Linked DNA regions of Homo sapiens: region 1 is linked to region 2. A link means that fine-mapping ties the variant in region 2 to the expression of a gene that starts in the linked region. Tissue or cell type: nasal epithelium. Region 2 holds a variant in brackets; the other region holds the start of a gene. All regions are shown on one strand. Distances are between the middles of the regions.

Region 1 (8,107 bases), 200 kb before region 2:
TACATCTTTTAACTTCTCTGAACTTTAGTGCTTCATCCTGATTTTACTTTCACAGCCACTTAATCCTAGGCAAGTTACTTAACCTTTCAGTGTCTGTTTCCTCATCTATAAAATGAAGATACTAATGGTACCCACATAATAAGTTTTTTATGAAGTTTAAGTAAAGCAATACCCATATAGTCTTTAGCACAGAGCCAAGCATATAGTCAGCATGTAATAAATGCTTGCTATTCTTAGCTATCATTCAACTCTGGAATCTTGCATGGTTTTGTAGTGTTTCCTCAAGGGCAGCATGTTTGTATAAGCTCAGAGGTAGTTTGGATACTATGCAGTGATTCACAGTTCTGCTATCTACAGTGGGCAGGAGAGGTAGTTGGCTTTTTTATTGCTACCAACCTTGGTCACCAAGGGGATTTGTTACCTTTTCTCATTAAGCAGAAGCAAAGTTGAGGAGGATTAAGTCTCTCTACGCTGAGGTAACTCCAAGCTTTGGAGAGATTTTTGTAAATTCTGGAAAGAGTAGGAGGAACGTTAGAATAGTAGCAGAATGTATATTTGTGCTAAGTCATGTTGAGAACGTGCTAAAGTTGGAGACATGAATTGATAGTTGCACAATTAGATGCAATTATGTGAGTTTTTTCAACAGCACTTGGAAACAGAGAGCAGAGAAAATCAGCAGCTAGGGTAAAACAGAGTTAGATTTTGATGAGGAAGATATGAGATGTTGAATGTACTGGTTTAAGGAGGTGGATCAAAGGGTATGACTGGGCAAAAAAGGTGGTGAGTCCAGAGAGATGCTGATTATTAGAAAACCAAAGATGGGGAGATCAAGGAACTAGAAGTTCCTACTAGGCTGAAGATCCGAGGTACTGGGTATAAAGGTTTGGAAGGGCTGGCAGAATACAAAGTGTTGGTGGGATTTTATAATTTTAATATTTCAGTCTTGGTTGACTTATGGATAATAGATATTCCTGGTTATGGTCTTGAGAGTAGATGGGAGAAAGAATAAGGGAAATGCCATTAGAGTTGAAGAGGCTAAACTGTGAAGCCAGAGTGTTCAGTGTATCATCCCTGATATTGGTGGAACTCAGCAGTTCTCCAGAGTTCTTCAGGTTTCTGCCTGAGAGACAAATCTCTTCTCCAGGACCTGGGAGCTAGGAGTGATCTTGCCCTTTGGACAAGATCTTGCTTGCTATTAAAAGGAGCAGCAGGAGAAAAAAAGGTGGAAGAAGAAGAGTGACAGAAGAGTACAAGGAGGAGAGAGAAACAAGGAAAGGGTGAAGGGAAGCAAAGAAGAAGGGGAAGAGGAAGAAAAGAAAAGAAGCAAAAAGAATTCTAGCCCAAAGTTGTTCTTCAATGCCCTTGCAAATGCAGGTCATCATGCCTGTGTTATCTGAATGTCTTTTAACTCCAGTTGTGATCCTGCTTCCTAATGTTTACGTAACAGAAAAAAGGCTCAGAGTAGTTCTTTTACTTGCTTGTGACAACAAAACATGTTCTGTTACACGTAAAGGGGATTTAAGGTTGCAGATGGAATTAAGGTTGCTAATCAGCTGATTAGGAGAGTGTCCTGGTTAACCAGGATGAGTCTAATGTAATCGCAAGGGTCCTTATAAGTGGAAAAGGGAGGAAGAAGAGTGATGTGATGTGAGAAAGACTCAAAGGGCCATTGCTAGCTTTGATGGGGGAAGAGGGCCATGAGCTGAGGAATTCAGGCAGCCTCTAGAAGTTGGAAAAGGCAAGACAACAGATTCTCCCCTAGAGTCTTCAGAAATGAATGCAGCTGTGCTAACTCCTTGATTTTAGCCCAGTGAGACCAGTTTCAGATCAGAACTGTCACATAAGAAATTTGAGTTGTTTCAAGCCACTGAATTTATGGTAACTTGTAACACCAAAAATAGGAAACTAGCATATACCTCTCAAAGTCTTGGTGCCCATGTGTTCCACATCTGAGAGGACCACCTTGCTTTCAGACCACTGAGTTTGCCTTGGAGGCTCTGTCCCTATACAAGGTTGAGTAAGCTGGTATCCCAGAACTCTTGATTAACACATGTGGTTGGCTGGCAGCCAGGGAAAAGTCAATATTGGGGGCCGAATTCTTCCTGAATGGAGTAAGGAGGCCTGTTTCAGCTCAGAGGTGAAAAATCTTGGCTGGATTAGCCCAGTAAATTCTCAAGATGCCTGGCAAGCGTCCTGGATTGTGGCATTCTCTGACCGATGTAAAAGCTTGAGCCTCTGAATGAATGGACGCCCTCTCCAGGGTAGCCAGTTCAGGGAAACTGGGGAGATACCTTAACACCTTCCTGGGTTGACTTAATTCCTGGTTTCCTTTTGAGTGAATGGAGGTGGGCTAGGAAAGATGGGGTTCTAGAATCAGAAGAGCCGCACAGAGATCTGCAGACTCAGAGGGGCCCACAGGCATTTGCAGCAGTCACCTCATTGCACAGCTGAGGGGGCTTGTCTGAGGTCACATTAGCAGATTAGCGCAGCCCATTTCCCTTTGTGTGACTTGGCAAAGAGAAAAATCGCCTATTAGTTTTTCCAGTGGAAGAGAATCCCAGAGCGGTCCGAGTGGGTGAGGAGTCTTGATAGAGCGATGTTGGGAAAAGTTCAGGAACTTGGAGGAGAACAGCAGGGGAGGGGGCAGCGCTGAGCGCGGAAGGATGGAGGGAGTGGGGCCCCCCTCTGCCTCAACTCTGTTCTCCTCATTTTGAGCTTGTATTTAAGCACGCCGGGGGGCTGGCCTGGGGGCCTCTCACTCGCAGCTTCCTCCAGTGCCTCCCAGGGCGGCTCTCCCGGGTCTCCCCTATTTGGCCGGCTCGGCCAGCTGGGCCTGGCGTTCGGGGCGGGGCCGGAGGAGCGCGGGGGTGGGAGTCCGGGAGGAAGATGCACCGAGCGGGCGGGCTGCGAGGCCGCGGGGCATGCGGGAGGCGGAGGGGTGGGGACCGGGGTGGGCTGCGCCCTCCCGCTCTGGCCCATTCCACACCCCGCCGAAAGCGGACACTGTCAGCTGAATCACTCCCCTTTTAGGAGGAGGGAGGGGAAAAAGGTGTCTAGCTCCTTTCTGCTTAAAAAAGCACAGGGAGATCGCGGGCAGCTTTGCAGTCGCTGCCTTCTCGCGCCTGACCATGCACCCCTGCATCTTCCTGCTGGGCCACAGGCGAGCGCTTTATTTCTGGAGCTGAGGGCTAAAACTTTTTTGACTTTTCTTCTCCTCAACATCTGAATCATGCCATGTGCCCAGAGGAGCTGGCTTGCAAACCTTTCCGTGGTGGCTCAGCTCCTTAACTTTGGGGCGCTTTGCTATGGGAGACAGCCTCAGCCAGGCCCGGTTCGCTTCCCGGACAGGAGGCAAGGTTAGTGACTCTTCTTTATTTCTTTTTAAAACAGTGGTGGTAAGACTTGCGGGAATTTTGTTGCTCCCCTTTCCCTTCCCCCACCCGGCAGAACTGAACTCTGAAAAGCCATTTGGCTGCGTTGTAAGGAAATCTGGGCTGGGACCTCAGGAGCCTAGGCTTTCTCAGAATTCAGTGCTTAAGGTGATGAGTCCTTCATTCTTATAGAAAGGTGAGTACCTCACTCTTTTACAGGGATGACACTGCAGTCTTTGAAAGACCCAAGAGGTAGCTGGTAACTTTTTCTCTTTTGTCTCCTCTTTGAATGCTGTACTGTTTTGATCCCCTATTTTTCAGACTCTAAACATGGAAAATTTTTTTTTTAAGTGCTAACTGGCTACTGGCCGTCATTGCAGTGTTTCTAGTTAGTTTTAAACCTCTGGTCAGGAAAGGGGAAATGTGATTCTTCCCCCCTACTGAGCAGGCTTGGCTGTGTTTTGGTTTCCTGGAAAGATTTAGGGTTGTATTTTTGAAAGAATAGTCCTTTTGGGGGAACTATACCTCCATAAGGGCTCACTTTTTCCTGTCCTGTCTCACTGACCACAGCTGGCTGCTTCTCTTTATGAATTTCTGAACTCATGTTATTGTAGGAAGCATTGGAAGCGTTCTGGTGGACAATTTGTTGTTGTTGTTTTATTCTTTTAAGCCTAACAGTCAGCAGTTTATTGGACTTGGAAGGGTCAGAGGCACCTTCATGTTTGGTGGGGGGTTCATTGTACCTCTGGGGGTAAACAGTCCTAGCAGCAGCAATGGCCCGCGTGGCACTCTGTGTCAGCCCATCCGATCACTGGCAATAGCCTTCCAGGGTGCAGGTACCAGTGTTGCTGTCCCTGCTGTACAGATGAGGATGCTGCAGCTTGGAGAGCTTATGAGGCCAGCTAATGTAGAGCAGAGTTTTCAGCTCAGGTAGTCTGACTCTTAGAATCATGCAGCACTGTCCTGTAGCAATAATAGGGACACACACGCACACACACACGCATATGCACCCACACGCATGCACACGCACACAGAGCACTGGGTTAGCATGCACTAAGTCCTGTGTTTGCTGACTGTGCTGAAGCCTCGGGAAGTGTCCTCCATGACTTTCTGACATCCCTTTAATTCCCAAGGCCACTCGGGTGATAAACATCACCAGCCTGTCCTTGTTTAGGATTTCTAAGCAGGGTTTTCTGCTCATGTTGTAAAATTCAAATATTGCTGGACAACTCATCTGCTGTGGCTTCAAGACGTATCAGAAGCAAGTCCCTCTCTTTGCTTTACTTGGAAAGCTGGAGCCAGCAAACACTGGGGTTAGATGTCAGTCAGCCAGCACTCACTTGTGTAAACGGTCCAGATACAATCTCCCACCCCCAAGTTTAAAATAGCAGGGCTTGTTGTTCTTTGAAAAACAGTTCCTTTGTGAAAAGTCTCCCTTCTGGGGCAGCACAAACAAAGCCTGCAAGCACTTCCCAGGGCATTTGGAGATGATTTCGTTCAAAGACACACATTCTCCTGGGTTGGTTTTCAGCTCTGCTCCACATCTTCTTTGTAAGGGAATTCAGCTTGGTGTGAAGCAGACACCACGGGGCCATGGTTTTTGCTCTCTGGAAAGTGAGATATGATTATTTTCCCTAGTCACCTCTATCTAGAGCTATGTGCTGAGAGTATCCACTGTTCAAAAAACCTATAAAGTGCTCCAAGCTTATTGGTGATATATATATTTATTTAGGTTTAAAAATAATTAGAGGTTTTTGTTTTTCGAGGCTGAGTCTTGCTCTGTCTCTCAGGCTGGAGTGCGGTGGTGCAATCTCAGCTCACTGCAACCTCTGCCTCCCGGGTTCAAGTGATTCTCCTGCCTCAGCCAACCAAGTACCTGGGATTACAGACGTGTGCCACCATGCCCGGCTAATTTTTGTATTTTTAGTACAGACGAGGTTTCACCATGTTGGCCAGGCTGTCTCCAACTCCTGACCTCAGGTGATCTGCCCACCTTGGCCTCTTAAAGTGCTGGGATTACAGGTGTGAACTACTGTACCCAGCCAATAATTTCAGTTTTTAAAAGCATTTCACCAACCACAATCAATTCCCTAGTGGATTTACAAATAATCCACATTTGGTGCAAAGGAGAAATTTCTAAGCAGACTTACATTTAGAATTAAGAAGGAAAGTCACAAAGAGGGAGGAAGGGATGGATGAGGGCAAACCAGTAGAGAATGAAATTCTAAGGCTATCTGGGATTAGGATGGCCTGGGTTTTTCCCTCCAAATGACCTACCTACAGCCTCACAAATAACCAATCTCCTTAGACTTCCATTTCCACTTTGATAGCATTTTTGAATGCATTCAAATCCTGAACGTTTAAACTTGCAAATTACTTCAGGATCATCTCACCCATTCTTATTTTTGAAATATTTAATTTTTTTTTTAATAGAGATGAGGTCTAGCTATGTTGTCCAGACTGATCTTGAACTCCTGGCCTTAAGCAATTCTCCCACTTCAGCCTCCCCAAATGCTGCGATTACAGGAATGAGCCATCATGCCTCGCCCCCATTTTTACTTTTATGGATAAGGAATGGGAGGTCTAGGGCATCAGTTAGTCAACATATATGATTGAGCACCTAATAAATGCCCCTTCACGAGGAGGGTAAAGGGAATTGCACAGGGTTCCACATTTGGAGACAGATTCAGACACTACATTACCTTTTAGGTTCCTTCTAGTTCTAAGAGTTGGGCTAAGTCAGGATTTTAGTCGTTGGAAGGAGTATGGAGATAAATCCAGTCCTTTCTGGGACTAGAAACATAGAAACAGGCTATTTGACTAACTGCCCAGTATTCTTTCCACATTGCTCAGTTGTGATATAGGAATGTGCTGTGACTTACACAGGATTTCTTGGTTCACAACCAAGTATCAGAACAACGGGAAATATTAATCTTGCACACAACATGCTGCGTGTCTTCTACAGCCAATCATATCCCCTTAGGTTTGTTTACCCCTATGCTGTTTACAAAGCGCCAGTCTGTTCCATGACCTCTTTTGCTCCTGACATCTCTGTGAAATCAACAGGACAGTCACTTTATTCCATATTAGAGATGAACTCCAGGCTTGTGCAAGAAACAGAGGGAATGTTGCAGTGTTTTCAGATAAGAGTTTTAATTATTTATGTATTCTATTAAAAAAATTCTGCAAGGAGGAAAGGATTTCAGCTATTTTCTTAATGTAAAAAGAGAGTTCACAGATTTGATATTTTGTGTTGATTATAATAATCTATACAGTTAGCACATTAGTTATCATAAAGTTTATGAGCAAATCCAACCTTCTGTGGCATACTTTACAATTTTGAGGAGCCCAACACAGTTCTTCACAACATTCCAACATGTGTAAATTTCTATAATAAAAATAGCGTTGCAAGGTTACAGTTATCTTACATGGAAGATAATTATGAAAATAAACCTCTATTACAGGAATTTCATAATCTTGTTTTTTAGAAAGGGATCTGAGAAATTCAATTGTCTCTAAGATAGAAATAAATATAAAGAATAAGTACAGATAATGCTCGCTTTGGAAGCACATATACTAATATTGGACCGATACAGAGAAGATTAGCGTGGCCCCTGCTCAAGGATGACATGCAAATCTGTGAAGCGTTCCATTAAAAAGAAAAAAGAATAGGCCGGCGTGGTGGCTCATGCCTGTAATCCCAGCACTTTGGGAGGCCGAGGTGCGTGGATAACCTGAGGTCAGGAATTCGAGACCAGCGTGGCCAACACAGTGAAACCCCATCTCTACTAAAAATACAAAAATCAGCCGGGCGTGGTGGTGCATGCCTGTAGTCCCAACTACTGAGGAGGCTGAGGCAGGAAAATCTCTTTAACCCTGGAGGCAGAGGTTGCAGTGGGCCGCCAAGATCATGCCAGCCTGGGCAACAGAGCAGGACTCTGTCTCAAAAAAAAAAAAAGAATAACTACTATAGACTGAGCCTAAACTGTATACAACTAGTAGGTAAATATTCTCTTACCTCTGTCCTTTCTAAGCTGAGGGAAAAAGATGCCTTGTTTTGTGTTTTCAAAAGTGCTTGTGCCAGTAGCCTTTACTTGAATTTCTCATGAAGTACCATTGAAACTTGTGGACTGAGGCCTTAAATATAATTTTAAACAAGGCAAATCAAAGTATTTGGAGCTTATAATATTTCTACAAACCCTTGTATAAACTGTGATGTAATTTTCATGTATCTCAGCCTCTGGCCCTCCCAACCCCACACCTTATTGACAACCCGCCTTGACATCTGTGCTAGGTGACAGACCCTGGAGATGCACACAGTGAGGGCAGAGCTTAGGAGTGTGTGCTCTGGGATCCGATTGCCCAGGAAAAAATCCTCATCCCTCACTGTTGTCACTTTACGGAGATGGAAGTATAGTCCCAGATGAGGGATACAGTTAATAATGCTTACTCAGAGAACTGTGAGGATTAGATAAGACCAAGCCGGCATACTCTTAATGTAGTACTTGACCATAGAAATGATAAAAATTAGGAGCTATTATTATTTCTTGACACCTATTTCTCCATCGCTGTCATATCTCCTCTGAGTTCTGCTTTCATTGGCCAAGATTATAGCTAACAAATCTGCCAAACTAATCTTAGCTTGCGGAGAGGAGGCTATGGTGAGTGTGGGCTTCTCTCCTGTCTCTGCTTGGAGGTTACACATGTTTATGTCCACAGTGATCCCGGGTAGCCAA
Region 2 (8,107 bases):
TTCAAACATCCTTTTTACTTACATTTGATGTAATTATGTTGGTATTTTGGGAAGAGTCATGTGTCCCAAATGATCTACCATTTCCATCTTCCTTTTTGACATATTCTGAATGAAGTGAGTGCAGTGTCAGGCAGGACCATCCAGCCTTTGAGAATACATCTCTTTCTTTCTTTTTTTTTTTCAGGTGCTTATACTTTTTGTCCATACTCTTAAGCTAGGATGTACTTGTTTTGGGGATCTAGCAGTTTCTAACAACTTAGACTCAGGTTGCTTCATTTCTTTCTTTAAAGGCAGCTGTTTGTACTTCAACAATGGCCAGTTTTGAGAAATGGATAGTCTGTTACTTAAATGTAAAAAAATATTTTTTGTTCTCAGTTAGTGTGGTAAACTTTTTGTGGAGTAAAAATGAGCTTCCTACAGAGACCCTTCAAATATACCCAAGCTGGCCTGGAGAGATGGGCCCCTCGGGCTGCTCAGCCCTTGTTGCTAATGGATGCACACACCTGCACTGGTGTTTGACTCTGCTGGGGAAGGCCACAATGACCTGCCAAGAAGAGGATCTGGGTGCAAGTGTGTGGTAGTGGCAGATAGCTCACAATTATGCCTTGGCAGTGGGAACGTGTGTTCGCCCAACTCAGAGAACACTAGAACTGGAAGAACCCCAGATATGGTGTCAGCTGGTGGTTTAAAGATGCACCATGTGGAATCCCCTTTGGGGCCACCCACCACACCCCATGACCCCAGCAACTTTGGGGTTCATTCTTTTCTTTACTTTTTGCATAATCTTTGTATCAAGGAAAGGTTCCATGACCCTTAAAAAAATAGGAATTCAATTCAGTTTCTTCATTAGACAGGGGAAGAGATAGTAATATTTGTCCAAGGTCACAGGTGGTTTGGGTCAGGCCAGTAGGCATGGGGAGCAAGCAGCTATCAATAGTGGGCCTGGATAGGACCTATTAGTCTTAAGATGCTTTCCTTCTTTTTTCCTGGTACCATCTCTCCAGCCCTCAACACTGGGTCCAGAATATCTTCCCTGAGTAGCACTTGTCTGAGTTATATAAAGAAGCAGGATATTGTCTCCAGAAATCTAGTATCAAAAGGTCACCTACCTCCTACTGCACTCGTAGACAAATGTCCTTCATGCATTGCTGAAGACTGGTGGGGACCTGGAGGACTAGGACTCAGCTGGTTTGGGGTCGAACTTCTTCTATGTATGATTTTTTTTTTTTGAGTTGATCCTTTCCATTCCTCATGCTGAAATTTTATTAGGCAGATGATCCCAGAAACCCCATCCCCATCTCCATGCCACTAAGTTAAATAAGATTCACACTAAACCAGCTAAAATGCTGGTCCTGCTGCTTACTGGCTATGAGACTTTGAATAAACTCTATAATCTCTCTGTGTCTCAGCTTTCTCATTTTAAAATGACAATAAGATTTACTACATGTTTTAATGTGAGAATTAAGATAAATGATCAAATCCAAGAGTGTTTAGCACCAGTTGGGCTCTTGATAGGCACTGGATCCCAGATGGCTGTTAGTGTCTATGTTGCTGTGTTGCTGCCCAGGTGTCATGTTTCAGAAACCTTGCAGAAGTGGTGACAGAAAGGTGGGACAGTTAGGGTACTGGGTCTCATTTGTCTGGAAGCTGCAGTGTAGGCTGGAGAAGATCAACTTGAGAAGGTCATCTTGGGGGAAGCTGGACCTCAAACAAGGCAGTAGTAATTAGTGGCCAATGTCCAGTTAGTGGTCAACCTGCGTGGGCTGGGCAGAAATCCTTCTCTGTTGGAAATCTGATATAAGGGTGTAGAAGAGAATCCAGATGAGGGAAGGGTTGGGCTGGAGGCAGAGCCTTGAGCAATTTTCTAAGTAGAATAAGCAGCCTCATTGCTCACACTGGAAACTACTGGCATGTTAAAAAGCACTCCAGAATGTACTGGAAACTGTAATTTCCAGAGTCTTCTGCCATCTATGTTCAGTTTCTTTGCTCCCTAGCACTACTCCAGGTTCTCTGTGTGGCTTCGTCAAGGCGTGATCCATGCCTGGCTGCCGTGGACACTGACTCAGAGATCAGCAGGTGAGGGCTCTGCCATCTGCAAAATCCCTAAATAGAGCTTTGTGAAGAGCTGCCTGCAGTATGTGGGGAAGGAAAAAGTACTCGGTAAATTGCATTTTCCAGGGATCTTCTAGGACTTCTGTTCTGTTAGTGGTCAGGTATCCTGAGCACCTCAGACAACGCTGGACAGACATCTGCACTCTGTTAGCTTCCATTTAGGAAAATCATTTCACTGTCCTCTCTCAGCACTGGAAATTTTCCTTGCTTAAGCTGCCCGTTTGGCTGGATTTCTCTGCTTGAAACAAACATGTCATGGTCTCAGTGGGGAGAATTCCTTAAATGAAAAAAGTCATCGAATGGAAAAAATGGACAAACCTGGCAATTCTTCTTTGCTTGTGGTTCATACATTGGTTCTGATTCATCTTCAGTTCTTTGCTTGTGCATTTGGTATTTACTGGGTGCCACTTTTGCCTGTTATGGTGTTAGGATTGGGGCAAAGGCCAAAGAAGATGTTTTTCTAGCCCTTTAGTTGCTTAAAGCCTAATTAGAGAGTCCTGTTATTTAAAACAGGAAATTATAGCAATATAAAAAGTACTCAGGTTGAGGTGTGGCCAGAAGCTATGCCAGCTGAGAAGAGGGGTCTCTAAACAGAGTGATGTGTATGATGGGAAATAGTGAGGGGAGCTTCCCAGAATCATCAGCCCCTCACCTGACCCAAAGAACTAGCTGTCTTTGTCATCAGCTTTAGAGATAAATGTGTAGGGCTGGTTTCTTGTACTTTCTGAAATTGCGTAGCAGAAACATTTCTTCCATCAAATCTGAGATTTCACTAGAACTCCGCAGAGTCAGCCCACATATATACAGTCCTCTCCCCCAGCTCAGTCCTGTTAAGGCCCAGTTCAGATCTTACCACTTCCGCAAAGCTTCCGGCACTATCTATAATATAACTGATATTTCTCTTTGGGAATTACTTGAACCCCAGTGATGACAATTTTTCTTATGTTCATGTCTCATTACCCACAAGTAGATTGGTTTTTGCATAAAGTCAAGGATCACGTCACATACTCCTTTGTCTCTATTCAGGAGAGTAACTTGGGCCTTGCCCAGAAAACCTATTGTATAAATGTTTGTTTTTGCTGTAGTGGAATCACACAGATGGCTGAATCTGTCATTTACTATGTGACTTTAGGAAAATTACCTAATCTTTTTGAGCCTCGGGTCCTTCATCTATAAGATGGTGATCATAAGAGGGCTTATCTCATAGATTTTTGGCAAGTTAAATGAGGTATGGTGCTATGTGCTTAGTATAGGACCTGAACTTTCATAAGTGCTTAATGTAGGTTTTGTTGAAAAATTTCAAATAGATATATGCCTTTAGCAGACCTCATCTCTCATTTCCACATTTCCTCCTATATGACTGTTTACTACTGAGTAACTACCTATTTGCTGGAAAAATGAAAGTAACTTGGACTTTAAAGATGTCTTTAAAAAAAAAAAACTCATGTCTTAGTTAGCTCAGGCTGCTATAACAAAATGCTATAGACTGGGTGTCCTAAACAGCAGAAATTTATTTCTCCCAATTCTAGAGACTTGAAGTCCAAGATCAAGTCCAAGATCTCTCTCTCTCTTGCTCTCTCTCTCTCTCTCTCTATATATATATATATTCAGTGCCTATATATAGAGAATATGTGTATATATATTCAGTGCCTACATATATATATAGAGAGAGAGGAGACAGATGAGGACACAGCAGGAAGATATATACATCTCTCTCCCTCTCTCTCTCTATATATATAGGCACTGAATATATATATATATATAGAGAGAGAGGTGTATATATCTTCCTGCTGTGTCTTCATGTCTCCTCTCTCTGAGAGAAAGAGAGGGCTCTGATGTCTCTTCCTTTCCTTATAAGGACACTAATCCCATGATGGGGGCTCCACTGTCACAAGCTCATCTCGATCTAACTGCCAACTAAAGGCCCCACCTTCAAATACCATTACCTTGGGGATTAGGGCTTCAT[C/G]ATCTGCGTCTGGGCAGGATGCAAACATTCAGTGCCTAGCAACTCTCTTTTTCAACACTGAGGGATAAAAGGTAGAAAAAGGGGAGAGTAAAGAAGAAGTAAAGAAACACAGGACCAAGGGAAGCAGAGAAACTACTTCTTTTTTCTACACGCTTCTCACCCATGACAGCTTCCTGCTAGCACCTAACGGTAGATATCTGAGGGTGGGGACTGAGGCTGCAGCCAGGAGCACAGGGTTCTGCTTTAATGAGGGGCTGTGCACAGCACAGTCTTTGCCTGCTGAGGTGAGCTGAAGCCTCTGTGAGGGGACCGGCACCCAGGGGAGGGAGGCTGAGCCTGCGGGGGCCAAGGGAGAAGAAGGGCTAAGGCCCCAAGGGCTTTGTGAGGGCACTGGGTGAGAAAACTGTCTGCCAGTCACCCTCACACACAAGGTCAGGGCGGCATGGAGCAGCCTCCTGATTAGAACAGACCTGTCCCCACCCAGCAAAATAGGAGGGGCCTTAGAGAAAGATGAGACCGAATCCATGTTGACAGGATTCCTGTACTCAGCCCAACCTGTAACAGCCGTTTCAGAAAACACCAGCCCACGTGGGCTTAAAGTGGGCTGGCTGCTTGGCTTACACAGAGACATTTGAAAGCAGATAGCGGTTTGAAACATTCATGTGAGATTCAAAACAGGGACAAAAAGCTGATGGGGCAATGAGGGAGGGGGTTTCAGAAAGTTAGAAACCATTGATAAAATCTTGACATTTCTTAGGGAATTCATGCTTCCCCATGCAAAGTGAGTGGAGAAGGAAACTAGAAAATGGTTCCAGCACAAATGAGGGGTTAACCATCTCCCCATTTTTAAATCTTCACAGGACTTCCCTCCAAAGTTTACATAATCCTAGATTATTTCTCAGAAGTGTTATATTGAAGTACAGCATTATTATTTTGAAGTAAAACTCACAACGCTAGAGTTTGAATTTATTTAGACCTATGATGATGTTTCATTTCTTTTGTCAATATCGCCAAACATGTCTAAATTCATATGGACAGAGAAACTGAGGAACCAGGAAGGGTTACACACAAATCAGTGTAAGCAACTCCACAGCCTAGAGAGTACCAAGGGAGAGGGCAGGATATGGTGTTAGTTGTCCCAACTCAGGGTCTGAGGCAGGGCCTCAGGAGGAGGTATAGTCCTAGATGCTTCAGAGAACAGGACCAGAGCTAACGAGGAGGAATGACAGAGAGGCAGGTTTCAGCTCAATGCAGTCGAGAATTTCCCAATAGAACAAGATGCCCTGTGAGTTGTTGAGTGTCCCTTCCTCCTGCTGGAAGTTTTCAAGTTCAGACTGGATGGCCATTACCAGAGATTAGGAAGGGGACATGAGGTTTGCCACTCTGCTTCGATGTTCTGCCCCTGCCAGGGGCCCAGGGTGCAGATGAGGGAGAGGCAGGAAGTGTTTGTGGCTGTGATCCTGATAGGAATCTTCAAAGACCCAGGCGCTGCCCTGTATCAGCCCAGGCTTCTTTCTTTACTCTCTTCTGGTCAACCTGTCTTCCTCGGCTCCCTAAGCCATTCTGAGCCCACTGGAACTTTTTACACTTGACTTCCACTTGGGTTAAGTACCTGCTTCCTGATGTGCGAAGTAGCCTTTTATTCGTTTTGGTGTTAAACAGACCTCTTTCAAGTTAGAATATGCTCCCTACTTACAGTATTCTGGGATTTTGAGAATGATTCCGTGCAGCTACTGTCTGACTTTCTTTATCATTCTATAGCCTCTCCTAGATTTCGTCTTCCAAACCATGACCCTCATGTATCAAATCCTTTTCATACTAAAACCTGTTAGTCACCTTGATAGTTTTGCTGTCCTTTGGATCTTTTCCACCTCTTTTTGTGCCTTCTTCAAGTGGAATGCCTGGAACCTTTGGCAGGTTTTCAGCTTATATATACTACAGTTTTATACATGTTTACTCTGTTGGAAACGGTGTGATGTATATTTTTAAAAATGCATGATTTTGGGGCATAGAAAGTACTGGATCTTTTACTGACTGATGGGCTGCACAACTCTGGGTAAGTTATTTAACCAGCCACTTTGAGCATCAATTTCCACATTTGCAAAATGGAGAGAAGAATATGTACCTCTGTCATTCATGAGGATAAACAATGTGGCATTTAAAAGCCAGGTATATTGCCTTGCACACAGTAGGCACTAAATAATTTAAAGGAGGAGAAGAAAGAGAAAGTTCCCATTGTTGGGTACGTCTTTTCAATAGTGGAAGACATAATTTAATGTAATAGGTAAGAAACATTTTTATAAAGTACTTTTTGAACCTCTCTGTAAGATTCAAATTTCTCTTGGTCATATTCATTTAAATTGGTCTATTTTGGTTATGTACGTAAAAACATTGCGTTTATATTATTAAATGTAAATTAAACTTATGGCCTTGCATCTTTACTAACATAAGTAGATAATATATGAGACATATACAGTGTTAGACCATTGTCTTCTGTTTACTGTTTAGACAGTGTTAACATCTCCCAGAAGCAAGAGCTATGGCGGGAGAAGTGGGAGAGGCACAACTTGCCAAGCAGAAGCCTCTCTCGGCGTTCCATCAGCAAGGAGAGATGGGTGGAGACACTGGTGGTGGCCGACACAAAGATGATTGAATACCATGGGAGTGAGAATGTGGAGTCCTACATCCTCACCATCATGAACATGGTATGCCAGACTACATGGGGGCTGGGGCAGCTAGTGAACAGATGTCATTAGAAATGCTTACATAAATAAATAAGAAAGGCCTTTTTGGGGTCCTTTTAACTTATTTTTATAAATATATATGTGAATCTAGTACCTGCCTAAGGATGAATATGGATGGAAATTCAGGATGAATTAGTCTTTCCCTTAAAGATGTGTATCCTGGGAACATTTTATAATTTATTAGTTACATACTTCTGGTAGGTATTTTCCAAGTGACTCAATCCTTTTCGTGTGGCTTTGTCTCATCAGTTTATGTTAGTAAACCGAAGGAGTAAACTGAGGCAAAGAACTAGAACATAATTTCCTCAAAGTAGTTAGAAATAGAATTGGAATAAAGTTAATGACTCTTAATTTCAAGCTTTCTCTTTGCATTGTTGATGTTTTCTGCCTTCAAGAAGATGTTAGTCCTATTGAGGTGGGAAAAGGTATTTGCCTGAGTAACTGATAATAGAAGAGGAGAATACTGTGGGCTGGGTTAAGAAAAGAAAAATGTTAATCCTTCAAACACACAGCCAAGCTATCACCCTGAAAGATTTTGTTTAAATATTGTAATGTGGAATGAGCTGTGGGCATATTTCACTCTTCTTAGCACACCGCCAAACATTTCTGACCTATAAGAAAACCTTTATTTTATGTGCATTACAATGCTATTTTCTTCTCTGGTATTTATTTATTATCTCTTCGTGTGGAGCTAATGGTTTTCTATTTCTGACCCTAGGTCACTGGGTTGTTCCATAACCCAAGCATTGGCAATGCAATTCACATTGTTGTGGTTCGGCTCATTCTACTCGAAGAAGAAGAGGTAACATTTTTTCCCTTCACTCTTCTGCTATATGTCCTCGCACTTCCTACCTTCTTTTTTTCAGGGGAGTTCTTGGTAGACAAGAAAGAGGGTACCAGAAAGTGTTTGGAAGCCCATCGAGAAGGAAAATATTATTTCTGTGTTATTCCCTTGGGAGTTCAGTGATACTGAGCGGGATGTGGATAACATTTCCAAAATATACATAGTTGAAATCTCTTGACAGTCATTGTATCTAATAACATACACATGAGACTCACCGCAGTCACTAAAGATGTTCTGCAAAAGAAATAGACTAAATCATGACATGGTTGGATGGTTTCAGTAAAAGGTAAGAAAGACATGGAAATGTCGAACCTTTGATACTACTAATTTACTTCTTGCATATTTAACACAAGCCTCTCAGATTTGGGACCTCTTGTCTATCTGCACGTTTACCTTTGGGGATTTCATCTATTCTCAGAGATGATGTAAAGTAAACATAAG

The links. PIP is the estimated chance that this variant, and not a neighbour inherited with it, causes the effect.
Region 1: it holds the start of ADAMTS12, and the variant in region 2 is fine-mapped to the expression of ADAMTS12 in nasal epithelium (TOPMed, PIP above 0.99).

Annotation. Positions count from the first base shown.
Region 1 is chr5:33,886,979-33,895,085 of GRCh38, reverse strand. ADAMTS12 (ADAM metallopeptidase with thrombospondin type 1 motif 12) reads left to right here and starts at 3,096. Exons shown (of 24, transcript NM_030955.4): 1 at 3,096-3,356. The coding sequence starts at 3,230. It also overlaps the pseudogene RNU6-923P. RefSeq lists enhancers at 2,813-3,312, 3,313-3,814.
Region 2 is chr5:33,682,535-33,690,641 of GRCh38, reverse strand. ADAMTS12 (ADAM metallopeptidase with thrombospondin type 1 motif 12) reads left to right here. Exons shown (of 24, transcript NM_030955.4): 4 at 6,587-6,783; 5 at 7,541-7,624. Among named protein-coding and RNA genes, the nearest start is that of ADAMTS12, 210 kb to the left of the region's middle. The variant C/G (reference allele first, on the strand shown) is at 4,079.